Homo sapiens: one gene and its partners. The protein of the gene in region 7 interacts with the protein of the main gene of each other region in a biochemical or structural test. Each region holds a gene or a part of one and is shown on either strand. Other genes may lie near its edges. The genes, in order: UBE2F, UBE2D4, DDB2, CUL4B, UBE2G2, FBXO45 and RBX1.

The links.
Region 1: the proteins of RBX1 (region 7) and UBE2F form a complex in vitro, tested with the Homo sapiens proteins (2 studies listed by BioGRID).
Region 2: the proteins of RBX1 (region 7) and UBE2D4 form a complex in vitro, tested with the Homo sapiens proteins (2 studies listed by BioGRID).
Region 3: the proteins of RBX1 (region 7) and DDB2 form a complex in vitro, tested with the Homo sapiens proteins (2 studies listed by BioGRID, with this or other methods).
Region 4: the proteins of RBX1 (region 7) and CUL4B form a complex in vitro, tested with the Homo sapiens proteins (4 studies listed by BioGRID, with this or other methods).
Region 5: the proteins of RBX1 (region 7) and UBE2G2 form a complex in vitro, tested with the Homo sapiens proteins (3 studies listed by BioGRID).
Region 6: the proteins of RBX1 (region 7) and FBXO45 form a complex in vitro, tested with the Homo sapiens proteins (one study listed by BioGRID).

Annotation. Positions count from the first base shown.
Region 1 is NC_000002.12:237,970,014-237,973,513, forward strand, and holds part of UBE2F (NEDD8-conjugating enzyme UBE2F), read left to right. Parts: intron 1-3,078; 5' UTR 3,079-3,094; coding exon 3,095-3,212; intron 3,213-3,500. UniProt on the Homo sapiens protein: Accepts the ubiquitin-like protein NEDD8 from the UBA3-NAE1 E1 complex and catalyzes its covalent attachment to other proteins. Together with the E3 ubiquitin ligase RNF7/RBX2, specifically neddylates cullin-5 (CUL5).
Region 2 is NC_000007.14:43,936,436-43,939,935, reverse strand, and holds part of UBE2D4 (ubiquitin-conjugating enzyme E2 D4), read right to left. Parts: intron 1,506-3,500; coding exon 1,442-1,505; intron 1-1,441. UniProt on the Homo sapiens protein: Accepts ubiquitin from the E1 complex and catalyzes its covalent attachment to other proteins. In vitro able to promote polyubiquitination using all 7 ubiquitin Lys residues, but may prefer 'Lys-11' and 'Lys-48'-linked polyubiquitination.
Region 3 is NC_000011.10:47,235,474-47,238,973, reverse strand, and holds part of DDB2 (DNA damage-binding protein 2), read right to left. Parts: intron 1,138-3,500; coding exon 973-1,137; intron 837-972; coding exon 791-836; intron 175-790; coding exon 125-174; 3' UTR 1-124.
Region 4 is NC_000023.11:120,523,358-120,526,660, reverse strand, and holds the end of CUL4B (cullin-4B), read left to right. Parts: 3' UTR 1-2,803; downstream 2,804-3,303.
Region 5 is NC_000021.9:44,784,821-44,788,320, forward strand, and holds part of UBE2G2 (ubiquitin-conjugating enzyme E2 G2), read right to left. Parts: intron 3,276-3,500; coding exon 3,240-3,275; intron 3,146-3,239; coding exon 3,100-3,145; intron 1-3,099. UniProt on the Homo sapiens protein: Accepts ubiquitin from the E1 complex and catalyzes its covalent attachment to other proteins. In vitro catalyzes 'Lys-48'-linked polyubiquitination. Involved in endoplasmic reticulum-associated degradation (ERAD).
Region 6 is NC_000003.12:196,582,160-196,585,659, forward strand, and holds part of FBXO45 (F-box/SPRY domain-containing protein 1), read left to right. Parts: intron 1-1,973; coding exon 1,974-2,159; 3' UTR 2,160-3,500. UniProt on the Homo sapiens protein: Component of E3 ubiquitin ligase complex consisting of FBXO45, MYCBP2 and SKP1. Functions in substrate recognition but also plays an important role in assembly of the complex.
Region 7 is NC_000022.11:40,957,878-40,961,377, reverse strand, and holds part of RBX1 (E3 ubiquitin-protein ligase RBX1), read right to left. Parts: intron 1-3,500. UniProt on the Homo sapiens protein: E3 ubiquitin ligase component of multiple cullin-RING-based E3 ubiquitin-protein ligase (CRLs) complexes which mediate the ubiquitination and subsequent proteasomal degradation of target proteins, including proteins involved in cell cycle progression, signal transduction, transcription and transcription-coupled nucleotide excision repair.

The DNA of each region.
Region 1 (3,500 bases), on a different chromosome or scaffold from region 7:
TTGCCCATATTTAAATTGTGTAATTGATCAGTCTGAAACCATGACCACACTCGAGATAAAAACATTTCCTGCCCGGCATGGTGGCTCACGTCTGTAGTCCCAGCACTTTGGGAGGCTGAGGCAGGTGGATTGCTTCCGCTCAGGAATTCAAGACCAGCCCGGGTAACATGGTGAAACCCTGTCTCTACAAAAAAAATTAAAATTAGCTGGACATGATGGTGCCTGCCTGTAGTCCTAGCTGCTTTAGGAGGTGGAGGGTGCTGAGGTGGGAGGATCTCTTGAACCTGGGAGTTTGAGCCTGCACTGAGCTCAAGTCACGCCACTGCACTCCAGCCTGGGCTACAGAGCAAGACCTGTCTCAAAAAACAAACAAAAAACATTTTTGTCATCCACAAGAGGGAAACTAGTGTGTCTGTGGTGACAGCTTCTAGCAGCTGAGTGGCTTTGGGCAGCCTACCTTCTGGGCCTCTGTTGTCCTGGGGTCCACATGTTAAAATGGAATGGGAGTGAGAGAAGTCCATTCCAACTTTGCAATTCTGAGAGCTTATGACCGTGAAAGTGCAGAGCTGTCTTTGAAACCTTTAGACCAGTGCTTCTTAAGGGGTTTAGGGTATGTGTATGTCCGTGTCCTCTAGTGGAAAAGACTGTGCAGTTCAGAAGATCGTATTCTATGTATTGTTTTCGTTTTGAAAAAATTCTTTAAATTTTTTTATCTTTTGAGATGCGGTTTCACTCTTGTTGCCCAGGCTGGAGTGCAATGGCACAATCACTGCAACCTCCACCTCCCGGGTTCAACCTATTCTTCTGCCTCAGCCTCCTGAGTAGCTGGGATTTACAGGCACCCGCCACCATGCCGAGCTAATTTTTTTTGGTATTTTTAGTGGAGATGGGGTTTTGCCATGTTGGGCAGGCTGGTCTAGAACTCCTGACCTCAGGTGACCCACCTGCCTCGGCCTACCGAAGTGCTGGGATTATAGGCATGAGCCACCATGCCTGGCCTGTACTGTTTTCATGGTACAAACAATAGAAAATAAAATCTGACAGCATTTAGGGGATATGCAGAAGATGGTGTGAGAAACTGTGTAAGAGACCTGGGTGAAAAATGGTTTCAAATGCCAATGAGGAACGGAGTATTCTTATTTGACTTTCAGGATCTTAGCCTCAACCTAAAATTTCTGTGCTTAGGTCAAGCTTTTCACATGGAATTTTTAGATCATTTTCTGTTGAAACGATCAGAGTGGTATTGAAATAAAATGATACGAAAGCAACAAAGGAAATTATGGAAATATTGAACTGGTGACAATTTATTTTGTTTTATTTTATTTTATTTTTTTGAGTCTCACTCTGTTGCCAGGCTGGAGTGCAGTGGTGCAATCTTAGCTCACTGCAACCTCTGCCTCCCGGCTTCAAGTGATTCTCCTGCCTCAGCCTCCCAAGTAGCTGGGACTACAGGTGTGGGCCACCACGCCCGGCTAATTTTTTTGTATTTTAGTAGAGACGGGGTTTCACCATGTTGGCCAGGGTGGTCTCGGTCTCCTGGCCTCATAATCCACCTGTCTCGTTCCCCTAAAGTGTTGGGATTACAGGCATGAGCCACGGCACCTGGCCCTGGTGACAAATATTTGTCCTCAGTCAAAAGAAGTTCCAGTGACCCTCTCTGACCATGGCAAGGAGGACGATTAATGTCAGTTTATGTTAGAAACAGAAGGCAGAGTCTAGCGGATAGTTACTTTGTTACAATTAGTGGGATCATAATGTAAGCTGTGGACTTTGAGTTATAATGTGTTAATGTGGGTTCATTAATTGTAACAAATGTACCCTCTGGTGGGAGATGTTGGTAATAGGGGAAGGATGTGCATGTGTTGGGGCAGGGGGCGTATGGGAAATCTCTGTACCTTCCTGTTAATTTTACTGTATACTTAAAACTGCCATTAAAAAATAAAATCTTAAACAAATTGTGGCATTTCTTCAACCGTCTCCCAGATAGCAAGGGGCATCACCTGTGTTTGGTCTTTGTTGTCCCTACTAGTGAGCTTGCAGCAGGGGAACCTGCAACACAGATGGGGTGGAAGCCACCAATGAACATAATCTACTTTGGGACATTAATTTTAATTTAGTCTTGATGTTGAAATTGCCAAAAAATATAAATAAAACACAAATGTAAGTAAATGCAACACAGCATGAATAAATGAGAAGATGCTTATTAAGGCTCTATCCACACCTTTATTAAAAGAGGAAGGAGAGCAAAGAGTGGTGCTCCTCTTCCACCAGAGGCTGTGCTGCTTCAGTTGGTGATGGGCCAGAACCTGGGACCGTACCATGTGTGTGCATGATCCCCTGCAGCAGGGAAGGGCCAACTTACCAGTGGGCAGTAATGGACTCATGTGGAACCCATTGGTGAGGGCATGCTGGTTGAGAAACTGTGGAGGCCACCCTAGACCTTGTGTTCCACGGGAGCTTTGTCACAACCACATCCCAGGACCTGGCACCCAGTGAGTGTGAAATGCATGACTCTTTTTAATTTTAAATTTTTTTTTTTTTTTTTTTTTTTTTTTGAGACAGGGTCTTGCCGTGTCACACAGGCTGGAGTGCAGTGGCACAATCACGGCTCACGGTATCCCCAATCTCCCAGGCTCAAGGGATCCTCCTACCTCAGCTTCCCGAGTAGCTGAGACTACAGGCACACACCACCACTCCTGGCTAATTTTTTTATATTTTTTGTAGAGACAGGGTTTTGCCATGTTGCCCAGGCTGGTCTTGAGCTCTTAGGCTCAAGCAATCCTCCTACCTTGGCCTCCCAAAGTGCTGGGATTATAGTTGTGAGCCACCGTGCCCAGCCATGACTCTCTTTTTTAAAAAATGTTAATTCATAATTTTAAAAGTTAGGCTTATAGAGGATGGCATAGAGCTTCTCAAATGTATTATGAAGGAATCCAATCTTATTAATGTGTACAAATTTTTTCCATAACTAAATTGTGGGAAAAAATCAAAATACAAAAGCACTTATACATTTTTCTCAGTGTCTAATTAGTCTCTGGAGACCTGGTCCTTAACCCTGCTTTCATTGCTGTCTTTCAGGGTAAAGGCAGCAGTAATGCTAACGCTAGCAAGTAAACTGAAGCGTGACGATGGTCTCAAAGGGTCCCGGACGGCAGCCACAGCGTCCGACTCGACTCGGAGGGTTTCTGTGAGAGACAAATTGCTTGTTAAAGGTAATGATCATTCGTGTGAACTGTTTTTATATCCTATAACAAAAGGAAGTTTGACTGGAGAGTCTTTGGGGATATAAAGCAACCTACTGCTGAATAGAAATACCTGTTTAAAAGATTTTAAAATATAATTGCTTATCTCTTATAGTGAAGGACATTGTACCACGCAGGTGATATGAGCACACTGTTGCAAGGAGATGGTATTAGAAACTGCAGTGTGTCTTATACACTTGGGATGTTCTTTGTCACGTCTGCCAAAATGCTAGCAGAAAGAATAAGGTGCTGAGAGTC
Region 2 (3,500 bases), on a different chromosome or scaffold from region 7:
CCATCCATTTCTAAAGCTTTCCATCACCCCCAACAAATTCTGTATCCATGAAACAATATTTCTCCTATTTCCACCCCCCATCAGCCTCAGGTAATCTCTCATCTACCGTCTGTCTCTATGAATTTGCCTAGTCTAGATATTTCATGTAAGTGGAATCATATATTCATTCTTTTCTTTCCGGCTTATTTCACTTGGGATGTTTTCATGTTGTAATGTGTATCAGAACCATATTTTGTTTATCTGTCATCCACTGATGGGCACTTGGGTTGTTACCAGCTTCTGAAAATCATGAGTAATGGTGCCGTGAACATTGGCATACACATTCTGTCTCACTCTGTTTTTGATTCTTTGGTATATGTACCTCTGACACCACTCTCCTTGAACACATAGTATCTCCCCTCCCCACCTATTTTCCTATGGCTGCAGTTACTGAAGCCTCACAGGGAAGGATTGGTGTCCCAGAGCCCAAGAAGCCCACAAAGTGGAGGCAAGGTGAGTGGGCAGAGGACAGACCTGGAAACCCTAGTGCTGGGCAGCTCAGCCTCGGCCAGCACCTGTGAGGGACAGCAGAGGCCTGGAACAGGCAGTGCTGCTTCTCCCTCTCTCTCCCAAGAAGCTGCCCAGAGCTGCTGCTTCAGTCTCCGCCAGGGAAGAGTGGAAGTGGGAGAAAATAATAGGGACTGCCCTTCCCCTTGGCAGAGGCAAGTGGCCACTGCCCTACCCTGCCCTGCCCCTCCTCCACTGTCCTGCTCTGCTCCCAGGAGCTGCAGCAGCACCAGGTCCTCTAGACCAACTCCAACAATATTTACACCAGCACCCAAGTTTGACTTGGCCAAGGGCACTTTCCAGCAGCTGATGTGACTCCTCAGGCCAAGCTGGCTTTCTCATGCGCCAGAAGAGGGAAGCGGTGACTATGGGACATGAGAGGCAGTGCAGGTTCTACTTTGAGTATAAGCTGACCAGCCAAGCTGCTGTGAACTCATGGCCTAGACCTCAAATGAAAAGCCATTCAAGAGAAAATGAAGGGAAAAGCATTGATTGGTTTTCTTAAATACTGCTTGGCTGATAATTTGGTTGTTTGGTTTTGTTTGTGTTTGTTTGTTTTTCAGACAGAGTCTGTTGCCCAGGCTGGAGTGCAGTGGCACGATCTTGGCTCACTGCAACCTCTGCCTCCTGGGTTCAAGCGATTCTCCTGCCTCAGCCTCCCAAGTAGCTGGGATTACAGGCATGTGCCAGCATGCCCGGCTAATTTTTGTACTTTTAGTAGAGACGGGGTTTCGCCATGTTAGCCAGGCTAGTTTCAAACTCCTGACCTCAGGTGATCCACCCACCTTGGCTTCCCAAAGTGTTGGGATTACAGGCGTGAGCCACCGCACCTGGCCTAAGTTGGGGGGTCTTAATTAAAATGCTCCTACAACTTGAAGCCCCCCAAAATACTTACAGTCATCACCGACAGGTCCTGCAGAACACTGGGCAGGAGGATCCCTCTGCAAGTCGGTTAATTCCTAGAACATGAGAGAGTGGGTCAGAGCTGCTGTATGCTGGGGATGCTGCCTCTACATACCAATCTTGGTAGCTGGAAGGAATTCTCCTGGTGGGAGGAGGCTCCTAGGCCTCAGGAGGGGGTTAGAGACATGGTGGGTCATAGGACTCTACTCCCTGCTACAAAGATACCAGAGAAGTAGGTATGATCATTTCCATTTTATACATTAGGAAATTGAATTGTAAAGTGATGAAGTTACCTACTCAAGGTACAGAGCTGGAAGAGGGCAGGGCAAGAAGTCAGTCACATGTAGCTCTGCCTTACCCCCAAGCCTAGCCTCCTACCTCCTCAGGTAGAGGACATCCCCAGGCCCCCAGGTGCTGAAGATATGGAAGAAAAGCAGCCCAGGAGAGAGTTCTGGGAGAAGGATAGGTGCCAGGTTTTACTGCTAGGCTAATGAATTAATGCATGGAAGCAGCACCAAGGAAGTGCTAATCTCTCTACTTTACCTCCCCAACCACCATCCCAATCACCCTAGTCACCACTGGTTATGTGGCAAGTCCTAGGGCTCTGAATGTGGAGACTGGCACGTGAGCCAAAGTTTAACACTGCACCAGTGGGGATCAGGGATTATACCACGACTAGATTCCCTTTATGGGACACCAACCCTGAACTAAGCCAAACACTGTCCTATCTACACAAACTCTCCTGATTTCACCATATGTCTCTGGACATGCTGATCATTTCAGTAACCACATCTCTGGCCATCCTGCATTTATCCCCTTCACTTCAAATTTAATCAGCCAAGATGGAAGTATTAACATCACAGAAGCCAGCAAATGCTACAAATCAGGGCCATGTTTTCTCCCCGAGGGTTGATCTTTAAACATCTACCAGTATACCACTGGCCAATTCTCGATTAGTATCTAATATATCTGAACCCATTTCCTCATAAGTAAAATGAATTATACTTGGCAAGCACTCAGGAAGCAGCATTAGGAGTGGCCAAAAGAGAATTTAACTTGGGGAACAAGTGAGGTCATACAAGGGGACCAAGGACAGGCTCAGAAATGCAAGAGCTACAGAAATCTCTGTGGAACAGTTCCTTTTAGCTTACCTCTCTGCTATGTGCCCCTCAGCACCTCCACTATCACTGTGCAGGAGAATTGTTTATATTCATTGCTACACTGCATGGATAAATTAGCCCTATGACAGAACTGCTAAGGCAAATCCTGAAGAGGTTATATGAACAGCCAGGGGCAGGAAAAGCCAGCAGTACAGACCAATTCCCCTCCACCTCACAAGGTTTTCCCACACCTCTATGCTTTTGCACTGCCTATATGCAGAATCCATGTTCCCCCTTTAGAGGTGTGATGAACAGTTACACCAGCACTTAATGATCCCTGAAAGGCCACGTGTGGATCCCTATTGTTAGACTCCAACCAGCACCCAGGAGTTTCGAATACTAACTGGCATTTCAAGGAAGAATGGTGTGACTTGAAAGAAACTAGTCCACTCACACATCGAATTCCTGTGCTCACCTCAGGGTTAGAAGACTCAGGTCTGAATCCAAGCTCCGTCACTGAGGAAATCACTTTCACCTCTTTGGGCCTCAGTGTAATTACCTGTTAAGTTGTAATCATACTTGCCTGCCAACTTGCCGGTACTATTGTGTGGCTACAAATTTTGCATGTAAGTTTTTAATGTATATAATGTAAGCAAGAGCACCCAGTAAATATCAAGATAATAGTGGTATAGAGAATGCTACAATTAGTATTATAAAAAGGGAGAGGAATAAGTAGAATATATATATTTCTAGAAGAATACTTCGACACTGGTTGCCCACCCAGGAGGGGAACTGGATGGCTAGGGACAGTCTTGGGTGGGAGACTTTTCCCTGTATATCCTGTGCACATTTTGAACCATGGGAATTTATTACCAAATCATTAAATATATAAATATTTTATTAATTGTAAAGGATTAAGTAGATTAAGTTTATATAGTAATTACTATTACA
Region 3 (3,500 bases), on a different chromosome or scaffold from region 7:
CCCTGCTCCAACCCTAACCTTGGATACTTTTGGCCCTTTAACAAATCGCCACCTCTGCTTGCAGGACTTGATCCCATGTGTGGGCTCCAAGGCCTTGTCTGGCCCACACCTTCTTTAGTGTCTCTCACTTCCGTGTCCTGGCTTCCTCCTGGCTCCAGATGAGAATGTGGTAACCTAGGAAGAGTGAGACCAGTCTGACTTACACTTTCTGTTACCAATCTCTCAGAGCCTGGGGCTGGCCCGCAAACCTACAATTTGGTAAAGAAATACTAGGAAGGCCGGGCGCGGTGGCTCAAGTCTGTAATCCCAGCACTTTGGGAGGCTGAGGTGGGCGGATCACGAGGTCAGGAGACCGAGACCATCCTGGCTAACACGGTGAAACCCTGTCTCTACTAAAAATACAAAAAATTAGCTGGGCGTGGTAGCGGGCACCTGTAGTCCTAGCTACTCGAGAGGTTGAGGCAGGAGAATGGCGTGAACCCAGGAGGCGGAGCTTGCATTGAGCCAAGATCACGCCACTGCACTCCAGCCCGGGGGGACAGAGCGAGACTCCGTCTCAAAAAAAAAAAAGAAATACTAGGAAACTGGACAGTAGCCAGGCATTGCATGACCAAGACAAAGCCAGAGGAATGGAGGGCCTTGGCTATAGAGACCACTGTCTCCCAGCCATCTTCTTCGTGGGCCACTGCCCTGGGGTGAATGTGGCAGGGCGGGGCTGAGGCTGGCCCGCACTGAACCTTGGGAAGTAGGATCGGACTTGGCAAGTCAGAGACATTCTCCTCCTACTCACCCATTGCAGAGGCCAGCGTGTCCCCCATGGGATTGAATTCATTAAGCTGCAGAGACAAGAGTGTCAACATGAGGAGAGGGTGAAGGTATTAGCAGAGACACCTGATTTCTGGTCACTTTTGGTCAATAAGGTAGGTTGAATCCCTGCTTCCTCCCATCATTATTTGAGGACCCAAGCCTCACCGAACTGATGCCAGAAGATTCTGGGTCATAGAGCTGACACATCATCTTCCCTGAGTTTCCATCGAACACGTCGATCGTCCTCAATTCATAAGGGGTACAACTTTTGAAATTAGGATCTGGGTATCGGCCCACAACAATGAGGTTGTAGCGAGGATGCCAGGCTGCCTAGGAGATGGAGAGGCCGGCCATGAGGGTAAACACAGAACATGATCAAGGGGGACATCAAAAACAAATATGAACAAAGAGGAACATCAAAAGTATTCTTTGGGCTGAGTGCAGTGGCTCACACCTGTAATCTCAACACTTTGGGAGGCTGAGGCAGGCGGATCACGAGGTCAGGAGATCGAGACCATCCTGGCTAACATGGTGAAACCCCGTCCCTACTAAAAATACCAAAAAAAAAATTAGCTGGGCGTGGTGGTACATGCCTGTAGTCCCAGCTACTTGGGAGGCTGAGGCAGGGGAATCACTTGAACCCGGGAGGCGGAGGTTGCAGTGAGTGAAGATCATGTCACTGCACTCCAGCCTAGGTGACAGAGCAAGACTCTCAAAAAAAAAAAAAAAAAAGTAGTATTTGCCAGTAACAAGCCAACCTAATAATGGAGATAAGTCTTACAGAAAACTACAAGAATGGTTTTAGGTTGTGTGTGCCTCTGCCATTGCACATTTTTAATCCCTAGCTGGCCTCCCTGGCCCTTAGGGCACCTTCAGGCCTTCTCCCTCATTTGCATTTCCTAAGATCATACCAACTGGTAAACGTTTTAACATCAGCCTGACCCAGATACTGACCTAAGAGGCCTACAACAAAGCAGAAAAAGCCTCTGGTGACCAAACCCTAACAGGACTTGAGTTCTGGAGGAGCCCCACTGTCATCCTGTCTCCATCAACACGAATAACTAAGAGCTGAGTGTAAAATTGCTAATGGCTAAAAAAGAGAAGGAAACCCACATTCCCCAGATCACCCCACTAAAAACAAATCTGGCAGTTATTAAAATGGCAGAATTGGATGGGATTTTCCTAAACTTCTCAAGGAAGTTTTGAAGGAAGAAAGACATGGTTAGCAGGAAGGAAGAAATAGTACATGCGAAGGCTTAGAAATAAGTCACAAATCACACACAGGAAGCTGTAATGACTTACGACACCTGGCTAGATACAAACTGGGACATGCAGACAGATGGATTATCGGGAACACTGATGGATTAACAGGAACACCAACTGGGGAAGGATTCTTGACATTATTTATTAAGAGCTTGGATGTGATTGAGGTACGTGGGGGCCACTCAATATTCAATCATCATTTATTGAATACTTACCAGTACTTACCAGGTGCTGGGCATGGGGCCAAGTGCTTTAAGTATACTGACTCATCTTCACAACAACCCTATCAGTTAGAGACTAGTATTCCCTTTTTGCAGATGAGGAAACAGATCCAAAATATAAGTAATTTGCCCAAGGATTCTAACCCGGGGGGTCTGGCTGCTGGAAACTGGCGCTCCCCACCACTATTCTGAACTGACCAGAGAAGTATAGGCATAAAACCTGAAGATCTGAAGAGGATCTGTAGTTTTGGAAAAGAATGCAGAACTAGCAGAGCTCAGTCTGCATGGGGGCTTAGGCAAAAAGGCATCAAAGGACTTGAAAGCTATTAGTGTTGGGGACTAATGATAGAGAAGCTATTAACAAGAGCCTGAGAAAAGGTGGGAAAATAAAAGACTTATTTTTATTATTAGAAGCACTGAAACCTGCAAGACAAACTAAGAAGGCAAAGTTGCCAGGCGCAGTGGCTCATGCCTGTAATCCTAGCACTTTGGGAGGCCAAGGTTGGGGGATGGCTTCAACCTAGGAGTTCAAGACCAGCTTGGGCAACATGGCAAAACCCCATCTCTATAAAAAATAAAAAAATTAGCTGGGTATGGTGGCGCATACCTGTAGTCCAATCTACTTCCGAGGCTAAGGCGGAAGGATTGCTTGAACCCAGGAGGTTGAGGCTGCAGTGAGCTATGTTTGTGCCACTGCACTCCAGCCTGGGTGACAGAGCAAGACCGTTTCAAGAAAAAAAAAAAAAAAAAAAAAAAGGATCAGCCTGGGTAACACAAGAATACCCTGTCTCTACAAAAAAAAAAAAAGTGAGGCAGGAGGATCGCTTGAGCCTGGGAGATCAAGGCTGTAATGAACCATGCTTGCCCCACTGTACTCCCACCTGGGTGACAGAGCGAGACCCTGCCTTAAAAAAAATAATAAAAAAATAAAAAATGAAGGTTTGTGGGTCAACTGTACACAGGTAACTGAAGCTGAGAAGACAGAACAGAGGGTCAGGATCTTAGAAAATTCTCACAGTGAGATCAGAGCTGGGCTGAAAAAACTCAGAAAAATATCTTATCAGCGAGACAGAAAACTCAACCATATGGGATGGCAGAAGTGGGATAAAAGGAAGAGAGAGAGCCAATGGGTAAGAGATGCTCTGTGCTCGGGCCAGGAGCGATCTGGGGTGGCAGGCTTACCACATCAGCCCTTCCCCACTGTGGGCA
Region 4 (3,303 bases), on a different chromosome or scaffold from region 7:
AAATGAAGCAGTGTAATTAATGGAAATAGTTGAGTGGACTTTTTCTCAGTGGTTAACATGCCCATTTTAAAGAGTAATACTTACCTTTAAGAAGAATGTTGTTGAACTCTTTGCATGTTATTTAGTATGATGTGCAGAAAACACTTAAGAACGTACCTGGTCTTCATGAATTCCTCTTTGGAACTGGGAAAGAGATCCCTGTGGCTATTAAAAAGGGGGGAGGGTTCTTACACACCATTAATTATGAAGCAAAAGGTTTATTTGCTTAAAATGTCATTTAAAGATACTTAAACTGCATGCAAACTTTATTTACTGTACAGAGTTCTGGATGTATTTATCAAATAGAAAAACCACCCTTGACTTGGTTGTTCACCCGTTTTGTGATTTCCCTTGAAAAGAGAAATGAATTGTCATAGCTATTGATATTTTACTAGGTGATGTTCTGTTACACTGAAAGGGATGTTTTTTAAAAAAAATTATTTGGAAACAAGTTTTCAAGTAGGGGGACAGTTGCTTACATAATATCTTGTATATTCACATCCTAAAAATTTTCATTTATGAGTATGGGATGTGTGTATATGGCTTAGCCCCAAGTTAACTGTGCTGATTAACAAGTACTTATAAAAATAGCTAAAGTAGAAAATTAATGATCAGTTGTACTAGAGGAACATCATAGAAGAGAAAAATCCAACTCTTTATATTAAAAATGAATACAATAAGAAAATTGCAAAAGAGACCAAAATGAACGTGTTTTGTAAATTGTTACAGGAGCAAAAACTTTGCAACTAGTTTTCAACATACTTTAGACTTTAAATGTTGTTTGGACAGTTTTGTCTTCAACTTGGACCAATTGTAGATTGTTACAGGCTTCCTAGGATTTAGCATTCCTATTTTCTCTACCAAAGTTTTTTTTAGAAGCATCCCAACTCTTCTCTTTGTTGATAAATAAGCCTTTCCTGTCATCTTCATTTTAACTTGCTAAAACCCTAGATACAAAGGTCCTCCCTCATTTTTCCCACAGAGCCCCTGTTTGGGAATTTGAGATTCTGTGTCATGCTGGTTTTCCTTTCAGAATTGCTTGAAATCGAGTTCTCTTAGCCACTGGACACCTAGTTTTCAGGAGAATGTCCCAAGATTGTTTATATATACAAAATGGCAAAAGTACTGTTTTTCGAATTGATAATTCAAGCAAAGGCTTCTCTTTACTGTCACTGATTTTTTTTTGTTTTTATTTTGTTTCCTTGTTTCTATTTCCTTGAAGCTTTGAAGGGAGGAGAAGCAGAAAATTTTGTTTATGTTTGTTAAAAATCAGAACTACTTAATGCTTTTTGCCACAGCATATTTCCTTGCCTGTTGGAGCCGTTAGGAAGATTACCTATGTCCTAATCTTCAACCTGAGAAGATTTTTGACTCTTGTGTCTACTGTTGATTGTTTGCTTGAGTTCTCAAAGACCTGTGGCCAGGTATTTTAAAAAGTCGTCTATTTCTTTCTAGTTGCATCAACTTGCACACTGGTGTCTAACTATATGTGGTATTCGGAACTTGTAATTCTTATTGAGCAGCCATTGCCTATATTTTCTCAGCTCCTCACTGATTTCTTTATATGAGCTCAGCTGACAAGCAAATGCAGCTATTTTGTTTACCCTCTCTTCATACCGGACCATCAACAACAGTGTTCTAACTCATCCCTGATGGTCTGTGAGATGTAGACTATTACACAAGATTCAAGTTACTCGTAAGCAACTTTTAGATAGAGTTGGTCCTGTTAGGAGGAGACTCTTGATGTCACCTTCAGTATCTTGAAAGCGGGTCCCCTCCCCGAGGCTCTTAATTCTTTGAAAACTTGATGCTGTTTCAGCTGAAAAATTAGCAAGACTGTTAAAAAAAAAAAGTTGAGGGGAGCTGTTTAAGAAACTGAAAAGTAATTGCAAACTACATTGGATAATTGTGACTTTCAGTTGTTGTTCTGTATCAGTTGAATTTTTGTGCTCTTTTCCCTGTGTACGTGGTGGTTCTATTTTTCTCCAATAAAACTTTTATTTAAAAAAAGTTTCTAGAGAAGATCTTTAAAATTCAAGTATTGTAAGAAAGTTATAAAATCACAGGACTTAAAATCTTCCTAACAACTTCTAATGAACTCACATTTGTTGATTTTGTTATTTTTAAACTTTTTAAAAATTTTGTAATGGTTTTGTGGTAATGCTATAAGAGTATGGGGGAGGGCATGGTTAACAGGGTGAGGAAAATTCCCAGGAATCCTCAAGGTGGATAATTATTCTTAAACATGCGGATACAAGTATAAACATTGCTTCATTCAAATCCTCAGTGTCAAATTGTTTCATAAAGTCAATATGAAATGAGTCTAGATTTGAGTTCAGGGGAGAAGAAAAGATTACTCTTAGTTATGGCATTTGCTCTGCCTTTTCTGTTAATAGTTTTTTGAGTTCTGGGCCAGATACTCTCAGAGTAAGATGTTCCTCAAAGTTTTTGAACCCAGTTCCTGAGTCTGCTTGAATGGTCTTAATATGATGTCTAGCCATACTCTTGAAATTTTTGCTGTGTATGTGAGTGTACAGTTCAGAAAACCAGTTTATCTGGGCATCTGGATCTAAAGATTTGAGAAGTTTGTTTTTTAATCTGGATATTCATAAATCTTTTAAAATGAGCTGGTCTTTGTTTTCATGACCACTCTGTTTAATGCTGTGAATGGCAGGAGTGTTGTGAGCGTGTTCTATTCTCTTATTTACATAAAATTGCCAAAACAAATTGTTCATTAAAAAGAAAAGAGCAGTACTGATGAAAATTTGCATAATTATGCTTTGTAAAATGATATCTTGCTAATGCTTCATTAATGAATATTTTTCAGTGTCCTACAAAAAAACACCTGCTTTACATTTGAATACTGAAGTTTGTTCACCTGCAAACACTTGGTTGAAATCAAACACTTTGCTCAATTATTTTCCTTTTTCCCCTTGCTATTATAAAAAAGGGTATTTCTTCTTTTGAATGGACACATAATGTACCTTTATGTTTAACAATCCTTAGAAGTCATCTCTAGCATAGTGAAAAAGACTCTGACCTTTCTTTTGTAAAACCGTTTCTATTGGATGTAAAATATAAGAATGTGCTGCACTGGCATGTTAGAACTTAATAGTTTTGCCAGCTATAACAACAACAGATCCTCTTCATTTGTTCTCTAATTTCAAAACTTTTCTTTAATTTTTAAATTTTTTATTGTGGTAAAGTACACACAAAATTTACCATTCTAACCATGATAAAGTATACAATTCTGACATTTAGTAC
Region 5 (3,500 bases), on a different chromosome or scaffold from region 7:
GTCTGGGGAGGTGACAGCAGTCAGGCATGAACCAGACAAGAAGGTCACCAAGCCAGCTGATTTGGGAATGCTGGGGCAGGACACAGAGGACAGCAAGCGCCAAGGGACTCCACGCCTTGTCCGGCCACTGGGGATGAACAGCTGTCTAGGACTCCTTCTGTCCCACATAAGTGCATCAATGAAAGAGGGCACCCACCCTCTCTGCAGCTACACCCCCGTCACCGTGGCTTAGTGGCAATGGGGTCACGGGCCATGGACCCTAGAGCTGGGCAAGACCTGTAACCATCTGTCTAGAAGATGCTGATAAACCTCTCTGTTTTGATCCAAATAAGTCAAAGAGAGGCAAAGTGACTGGGCCAAGAGCAGCAGGCCATGCTAGCACCCACAGCCACGGTGGCCACATCCCCTGGTGTGCCGCCATCCCAGCCACGCTCGATTTGATTGCAGGCTCAGACTCCACCATGAGCGTGGCAGGGTCAGCAGAGTTATTCCCGGTGTTTAAAGACACAGCCTGCGGACTCTCATTATTTAGTCCTCTCATTCACTAATCTGTTCTATTCTCCATCCTAATCCCTCAACCCTGGTCTTCCAAGGTAAAGATTTCAGTGCATCTTTGACATGTCTGTATCTTCAGACAAGGGCCCTAACATATCAAAGGCACTTAGTGTTTGTTGCTTAGATATCTAAAATGACATTTTCTTCACTGGCCCTTAAGGCAAGCACAACAGCAAAAACCAACAGCCGTTCGACTTCTGTGAGGCAAGCACGGGTTTTAGAAATACTAGGGTAGAGAGGCGGCCCTGGAAGCCATCAAAGAATAAAGAGAAAAAGAAGAAACTTATCACCAAGGAGCAAAGACTTGGCCAGATGTCTGCCAAAATAGCAGGGTGAGACAAATCGATGGGAGGACAGTTAATTCCCTAATAGGCATTTTAAGTGCACTTGTAAACGGCCTCTTGTTTGTGAAGGGTCTGGAACAGGACCAAAACCCACAAACTCACTAGGATCTTCAAGCAGGGGAATTCCAAACTAATGCAAAAAGCCTTGTTCAAACACAGAAGTGCTCTACCTAAAAATAGTTCTAATTACTTTTTAAGACAGGTTTTCAAAATATTGGTTTAATTTTACACTGTTTATTTAAAATTGGTAATAGTTACCCTAATCGATTTTTAACAATGAACATTTTTTTAAAACCACACTGGACGGCTCAACTGTTCCTTTAATGAGCTTCCAAATAGGCCTACGGAGGAGCCAACACCCCACAAATAACTGCAGACACGACAGGCGCCTTCAACCTCTACACACAGACAGGCCTCCCGCCACTCTGGGCCCCTGCAGCAGGCGTGCTGCCCCGCTGGCATGAGTGCAGGTGCGCCTGCATTAACACATGAAACAAGCAGGTTACACATCAGTTCATGTATATGATCTCCTGCTTCTACAGAAATAAAAAGAGCTGCCCCGATACAAGTATACAGCCGCACAGTCCACTAATGAGGACAGCCCAGACTGTGGGACTCGCCATCCATCTCATAACTGCCTTGGGGGCCACATTACACACAAACACAGATTCCAGAAACCTTCAGACACCGAAAAAACATGTGCCATAGGCCCAAGCAATTAGGATATTACAAATGATCAGGAAATGGCAGGCGTGCTGTACCATCTGAATAGCGTTTGATGATTTTTTAAAAACATTTTGTTTATCCAAAATACTAATTTTCATATCAATTTAACCTCCACAGACAACACTTAGCTGCAATCTGTTTCTCAGACCAACCCATAGAGCATTAAGAATTAATGTGATCCAAGCAACTGGCGAATTCCAAAAGCATCATGAAGCTTAAGATCACTTCAAGCCAGAGCCCACACTTGTTTCACAGCCCTCACTTTTCCGGTCCTTGCCCTCTAGAGCACTTCTCAATGCAACAAAATCCAACCCAAGACCTTGCTGCAAATTAAAAGACCTCACTAATGAGATAACAAAGACTGGGCTTGGCGCGGTGGCTCACACCTGTTATCCCAGCACTCTGGGAGGCCAAGGCAGGCGGAACACCTGAGGTCAGAAGTTCGAGACCAGCCTGGCCAACATGGGGAAACCCTGTCTCTACTAAAAATACAAAAATTAGCCAGGCACGGTGGTGGGTACCTGTAATCCCAGCTACTAGGGAGGCTGAGGCAGGAGAATCGCTTGAACCCAAGGGGCAGGAGTTGCAGTGAGCCAAGGTTGTGCCACCGCACTCCAGCCTGGGCAACAAGGGCGAAACTCCATCTCAAAAAAAAAAAAGAAAGAAAGAAAAAGAAAAGAAAGAAAACAGAGACTGATTACAAATTTCAACTTCCTAAATTTTATTTAACCTCACTTTGCTGAAAATACACTAAGAATGGCCAAAAATTGCACATCTAAGGTAGAAAGAAGAAAAAGCAAAGTGAGTCAAGGCCATAGAACACTCTAAAATCAGGGGTCCATGTGTTTCTCTTTCCAAGCAACGTCACCCTAAGTTAAATGCCACGAATCCCAGAACCACACTGCTCACTTACTAAGCCATGTCTTGGGTCGGAAAGAACACAAGGCCAACAAGTCCAGACAAGGCAACAGAAAAAGGAGATGCAGCACACGAAGATACGAACTGGGAGGAAAGGAGAAGAAAAAGAAGTCCTGGCCCAAAGGCAGGGCAGGCAAGGCTGCGCTAACATGCCTGGTGTGGTCAGACACATCTTTGAGGACCCTTTTCTCGTCAAAATTTCACACCTGAAGGGGCTACTTCTGGAAGCCAAAGCCACCTACGCCATTTGAGGTTATTTTAACCACGATCATACAACATTCCAAAATTACCACCTTAAAACTCTCAAATATATAATACATATATTACATAATTATAACTAAACCTTTGACTGGCTCTAAGGAAACACTCATTTCTTTTGGATCAATGCTCAGGTTCTCTGCTTTCAGACCAGCAGCCTAGACGAGAGCTGGGCATTACTGGAGAACTCAGTCTTTTTTCCAGCTGATGCTTTTGGACACAGTCACACTGCTGATGTGATTCTTACATCTGACTTCCAGCAAAGCCCTAAAAACTAGTACACCTAAAATTAACTTACATGATCAATGCCTCCCATTCAAAAAAGTTCTCTTCATTCATGGGGCCTGTAGGGTGAGAAAAAATTTCACAACATTTTAACTTTGAAGGAACTTTGGCAATTAAAAGTAAATTATAAGGAAGTTAACTTTGGTACCTTACCTGCTACAATTCCTTCCGGAGGATTCAGTGTTAATTCTATAAAATTAATAAGTAAAACCATTACCAAACAGAATAAATGTTACATTGTCATTTTAACAAAACACCTTTACAAAATATATAAGCCTATAAACCATAGAATATGCATATTAACAAGTGAAAATTCTGTTTGCCCAAAGTGAATACCTAGTACAATAACGGTTCTGATAACAACTACACAAAGTTTTTTTGTTTTTTTTTTGTTTTTTTTTGAGACGGAGTCTC
Region 6 (3,500 bases), on a different chromosome or scaffold from region 7:
TGTGCGTGCTGTGTGCTCAAAGGTGAAGCAGATTTGCAGATTTCACCAGGAGTAATCGTTACTTAGTTTCAACTTCTGTAAAATAGGGATAGTTCCTAGGATTAGTGTGAGGATTAAATGGGATAATACAAATACGACACAACACAAATACCCAACAAAATTAGCTTTTCATTTCTACTTTGTTAATATTTTGTTGGTAGGAGTGGTGGTGATGATGATTTGGAGGTTCTTAGATCCATAAAATGAGGTGTGGGTTAATCTGTGAGGTGGGCAAAGGGAGGAAAAAAGCAGATGTTGGCAGTTACTGTTAACAGGAAATACAGTGAAGGAAAGTAAATGACAATAGTAGGGGTTATAATCAGGTAGAATTAAATTTTGATTGCAAACATTAGGACTTTCTGTTTCCAATTTTGTAGATGCAACATCTTTTTATAAAGGCAAACTAAAAAGATGAAACATCCTTTTTTTTTTTTTGCTTACTTTTCCAAATGGGAAAAAACTGGATATATTCTGCTTCCAGTTTCGTTTAATAATCAGTGCTGCTGTTTTTTATAACAAACAGGTGTTTCAGAGTTGTGAACCACAAATTGTTTAATAAGCCTATTCTATATTCTACATTAGAATTTGTAGCCAGATTGGATTATTCATGATTCCACATTACATGTGGAACTGCTTTGTAAACTTTAAAAGCTGTGTGTCTTACTAAGGTGATTTTTAAAATTGTGGTGAAACATACATATTTATTATTTTAACCATTTGTAAGTATACAATTCAGTGGCATTAAATACATTCACACACCTCTCTCTATACCCAAAACTTTTTCCTCACCCCAACATAATCTCTATTATGTTCATTCCCTATTTCCTTCACTCCCCACCCCTGGTAAACTCTGCTCTACAACTATATATATTTGAGTATTCTAGATACTTTATATAGGTGGAATCATACCATTTAGCCTTTTGTGTCTGGCTCATTTCACTTAGCATAATATTTTCAGGGTCTATCTATGTTGTAGCATATATCAAAATTTCATTTCTGTTTATGGCTGAATAATATTCCATTGTACGGCCGGGCGCGATGGCTCATGCCTGTAATCCCAGCACTTTGGGAGGCTGAGGCAGGTGGATCACGAGGTCAGGAGATGGAGACCATCCTGGCTAACACGGTGAAACCCGTCTCTACTAAAAATACAAAAAATTAGCCGGGCGTGGTGGCGGGCACCTGTAGTCCCAGCTACTGGGGAGGCTGAGGCAGGAGAATGGCATGAACCCGGGAGGCGGAGCTTGCAGTGAGCTGAGATTGCACCACTGCACTCCAGCCTGGGCGACAGAGCAAGACTCCGTCTCAAAAAAAAAAAAAAAAAAAGTTCCGTTGTATGTATAGTATAGTAATTTGAGAAGCTGATTTAGATTGCTCTTTTTGGTAAAATATGCCAAGTTATAGATTTTAGTGTTAACCTTAAGAAAAACCTTTAAACAAAGAGTAAATAAAATCAATCTAGGTAGTGTTCAGGTGGAACATTTAAATTGTAAGTAATTAAGTGTAGATTCCATGTGAGTCTTAAAAACAAAACTATCAAAGTAAGCATTTGTGATGTGTTACCTAGGCTGGAGTGCAGTGGGCAGTGGTGCGATACCAGCTTTGCGCCACCACACCCAGCTAATTTTTGTATTTTTAATAGAGATGGGTTTTCACCATGTTGCCCAGGCTGGTCTTGAACTCCTGGGCTCAAGCAATCCGCCCGCCTCAGCCTCCCAAAGTGCTGGGATTATAGGCATGAGCCACTATGCCCGGCCAGATGTATGTCCTTTTTTTATAGATGTTTCTTCCTGACTAGAAAGCTTCCCTTCTGATTTTTCTAGATAGCTTTCAGGATAATATTCTTAATATTTTCAACTTCTTGATTTGTGTCTTGTTTCTTCTAGCTACACCCTTGGCAGATTTTCTTCTAACCTTTTGATATCTGTTTGCAGATAGGAGAAAGAATTCGAGTCATCTTGGACATGGAAGATAAGACTTTAGCTTTTGAACGTGGATATGAGTTCCTGGGGGTTGCTTTTAGAGGACTTCCAAAGGTCTGCTTATACCCAGCAGTTTCTGCTGTATATGGCAACACAGAAGTGACTTTGGTTTACCTTGGAAAACCTTTGGACGGATGACAGTGGCTTTCTTGTGATGACAGACAGAATGGAGGAGAGATCTGCTTATGGGAAGTAGAACCATGAAGTGACTGTCACACATGCATGTCCAAGAAACATCCTGAAAACACATGAAGTCGTAAACTGGAGAAGCAGCTCTACAGCAGAGATTATCTTCGTGTTTCCTCTTTCTACTGGGCCAGAAAAATCCTCAGGGTTGCAGTTGGTTGAGTGGGCAGTTGACATATGCATGTTGCACCCGATGTTGTCTCTAAGTTAGCAATGTGTTATTTCCAGCTTTAAAGGTGAGATTGTAGAGATGCTGTCAAAGGGATAAGGAAATAGCAAGATTTTTAAGTAGTGTGTTTGTGAAGACTGATCCCATTTTACAACTGCCTGTTCTTTCTCCAGTCCTTTTTTTTCCAGCCAGCTTGACTATTAGAAAAGTATGAAACTGGTTGGGTTTTATTTAATATTTTTAATATATTGAGAAGCATGGTCTGCCTGGACTGCACTTCTCTAAAAGTGAGATATAAAATTGTGCAGCTATTTTAAAAGTTGTATATAATATGTGTGTAAAAAAAAAAAACTGTAAAAAAGAAAGGACAAACAGGTTGTTTTGTTCTAGTTCTAATTTCTTAAAAACCACTACATGGTTACAAAATTGGAATAACATTTGGGGACAACTGGGTTAACTACAAAGAAGAGGATTTTAAGAGGAGATGTGTTGTATTGACTCATTTTGTATTATTTTTGGCTTACAGTTCCCATAGCTGTTAGAGTCTGGTTTGTTTTTGTTTTTACTCTCAAAATCATAGTAAAGATCTCTCAGTCTCCTGGCTAAAGATTGAAGGAAGGCAAATCTATTTCTAATTATACATATATCAGTAAGGATGATCTCAACATAATAGTAATGTGTATCTTTTGGTATCCAGTTTTATTTTTGGCCTTCTAAGAAAGTGTCTCATAACACAGAACATTGCCATTTGCTCTTGTAGGCCTCAAATATGAAAGCTATTAGTCATAGAGCCTAGGAAAAAAAGAATTGATTAATGGTCCTTTTATTTTGTAACCTTATAAATGCTGTAGATATTATCAAAAAAATTTTAATTTCATATTGTTTACATCATGCAACTAATCTAAGCCTCAAACTCGTTATTGGGGCTATAAAGAAAACGTTTACTTACCCAGCTGAAACAGGTTAAGAATATTCTTAATCTCATTATAGATAATTGCCCCCATGGGACTTGAAATACAACACCTTGTGCTGAAAACTTCAGGTTGGCAATATTTGAAGGTTTCGTTGTAGAAGAGTTTAACATTAACTCCTATTTTGACTTACAAATCTTGTTTCTCATCACT
Region 7 (3,500 bases):
CACAGTCGCTCACACCTGTAATCCCAGCACTTTGGGAGGCCAAGGCAGCAGGATCACTTTAGCCCACGAATTCAAGACCAGGCTGGGCAACACAGCAACATCTCATCTCTAGAAATAAAAAAATTAGCCAGTTGTGGTAGCACATGCCTGTGGTCCCAGCTACTAAGGAGGCTGAGGCAGGAGAATGGCTTGAGCACAGGCGGTTGAGGCTGCAGTGCACCATGATCGTACCACTGCACTCCAGCCTAGGTGACAGAGCAAAACCTTGTTATCAAAAAAAAAAAAAAAAAAAAAAAGGCCAGGCACGGTGGCTCGGCCGGGCGTGGTGGCTCATGTCTGTAATCCCAGCACTTTGGGAAGTCGAGGCAGGCAGATCATCTGAGGTCAGGAGTTCGAGACCAGCCTGGCCAACATGGCGAAACTCTGTCTCTTCTAAAAATACAAACAATTAACCGGGTGTGGTGGGTGGCGCATGCCTATAATCCCAGCTACTAGAGAGGCTGAGGCAGGAGAATCGCTGGAACCTGGCAGGCAGAGGTTGCAGTGAGCTGGGATCGCGCCACTGCACTCTACCCTGGGTGAAAGAGCGAGACTCCATCTTAAAAACAAACAAAAAAGGGATCTAGGGTCTATGCAGTGTATTTAAGAACTTATTGAAACTGGAATACACTACTATAATTAAAAGAATGGCAGAGAAAAGTAAATATGATGTCCTTTAAGCTGGATCCTCTAACTTAGAGGAAGACTATGTATTATAAAATTAGCTAAATAAGAGCCACAATTATTAAAGTGAAAATCAAAACTGTTTCAAGGTACATTATCGTGTTTAAATTTGATCTGGGTCTTTCTTTTGACTGTGGCCATGGCACTACTAACCTAAAGAACCCTTCAGGCTCCCTTCACGGTAGAGTCCTTTCCTTCGTCCCTGCCATACCTGGAACATGCTCCTCCTCCTATCACTCTCAAGTCCTCCCCACCCTTCAAGACCCAGCTTAAATCCCTACTTCTTGACTGAAGCTTTTCCTGACTCTTCCACCCTGAGTCATTTTCCTCTCCTTCAGGCACTCTTAACACATCAATTATGAGTATCTCTTTACATACCTGACCTCCCTCCTTCCCCCTCAACTCAAAGCTCCCACAGAGCAGGGACCTGGTCTTTCTATGCCAAGTGCAAATTAGGCTCTTGGTACTTGAACAAGCAAACAAAAACTATTTCTATAAATAGAAGAAATACGGGACAAATACAGATTCATTCTTTTTTTTTTAGACAGTCTCGCTCTGTTGCCCAGGCTGAAGGGCAGTGGCACAATCTCCACACTGCAACCTCCACCTCCCGGGTTCCAGCTATTCTCTCACCTCAGCCTCCCAAGTAGCAGGGATTACAGGTGTGCACTACCATACCAAGCTAATTTTTTGTATTTTTAGTAGAGACGGGGTTTCACCATGTTGGCCAGGCTGGTCTTTAACTCCTGACCTCAAGTGATCTGCCTGCCTCGGCCTCCCATGGTGCTGAGATTACAGGCGTGAGCCACTGCATCCGACCAAGATTCATTCCTTTTTTTCTTTTAGACAGAGTCTAGCTTTGTCCCCCCAGGCCGGAGGGCACTGGTGCAATCTTGGCTCACTGCAACCTCTGTCTCCCAGGTTCAAGTGATTCTCCCGCCTCAGCCTCCCAAGTAGCTGGGACTACAGGCATGCGCCACCATGCCTGGCTATTTTTTGTATTTTTAGTAGAGATGGGGTTTCCCCACGTTGCCCAGGCTGGTCTTGCACTTCTGGCCTCACACGATCCACGCGTCCTGGCCTCCCAAAGTACTGGGATTATAGGCGTGAGCCACCGAGCCCGGCCAGATTCATTCTTTACTACAAAATTCCTAACAAAGAACAAAAATGTATAGGAGGGATATTACTGCAATCTAGAGTACCAAATAAGAAGGGATATAGCAGGGAAAATGATTAAATATTAGTGTAAAATGTGCTCAATACAAAAGTTTTCCAGCTTTTGTTGCAGAGAGTAAGTACAGGGGTTGAGTCCAGTTAGTTTAAACGGGCAGGAACTGTTCACTGTCAACCCAGAACAGGTTGACAGTGGCACATAACGGGTTCATGTCACACCCCTGCCAAGGCAGAAGCCTATCATGTGATTTATAAAGCTTGGGGACCTTTAAGCTTTGATAAAAACGCTGTACCACCAAAGAACTGTTAAGGAAGCAATGGCTTCATCTCAAGAGTAGACAGATTACACTTTCAAAACACTGACGGGGCCGGGCGTGGTGGCTCACGCCTGTAATCCCAGCACTTTGGGAGGCCGAGCCGGGTGGATCACTCGAGGTCAGGAGTTAAAGAGACCAGACTGGCCAACATGGTGAAACCCTGTTTCTACTAAAAATACAAAAATTAGCTGGGCATGCTGGTGCATACCTGCAGTCTCAGCTGCTCAGGAGGCTGAGGCAGGAGAATAGCTTGAACCTGGGAGGCAGAGGTTGCAGTGCACCGAGATCATGCCACTGCACTCCAGCCGAGGCAACAGAGCAAGACTCTGTCTCAAACAAACCAAACCAAACCAAACCAAACCAAACCAAACCAAACCAAACCAAACCAAAATACTGATGGATCTGTAGTTTTAGGTAGATGCTAACATCTTCTGGGCCAAGGCTGGGTCTAAGATGATGAAGATTCCCCATCATCAGGAATAAGATTACCAGAGGTAATAGAGAAAATAAAACCTCACATATTTGATTTTTCAGCAACTCCTTAATACAACCAAGGAAGGAGACAGTGTAAAATAAAATAAATACAAAGGTACAGGAGGGCATGCAGAATCAATATGGACTTAAAAGAGGAAGTCTTCAGAATCCGACTAGGGCACAGCCATAATCATTCTTATTTACTTAGAGCTATGTATATAATTACTCATTTAAGGTCAGACAAGATTTATTAAAATACAACCGTTGCTAAATCTAGATTCTTACTTTCATCTTTAACAAAAATTGTCTTTATAAAAATGATAAATCCATTTTTTTCTTTACTTGCTAAGTTCTTTTCCCATATAAATCCTTTTTTTTTTTTTAAGTTATGGCACTCAGACTTCTCCTCAGTGTCTATAATAAAAGTGTGTGGCCAGGGGCAGTGGCTCACACCTGTAAGCTCAGTGTTTTGGAAGGGCAAGGCAGGAGGATTGCTTGAGTCCAGGAGTTCAAGACAAGCCTGGACAACACAGCAAGACCCAATCTCTACAAAAAATTAAAAAATTAGCAGCTAGATGCGGTGGCTCACACCTGTAATCCCAGCACTTTGGGGGCCGAGATGGGTGATCATGAGGTCAGGAGCTCGAGACCAGCCTGGCCAACATAGTGAAACCCCATTTCTACTAAAAATACAAAAAATTAGCCAGGTGTGGTGGCGGGTACCTGTAATCCCAGCTACTCGGGAAGCTGAGGCAGGAGAATTGTTTGAACCCAGAAGGTGGAGACTGCAGTAAGCCGAGATCGTGCCACTGC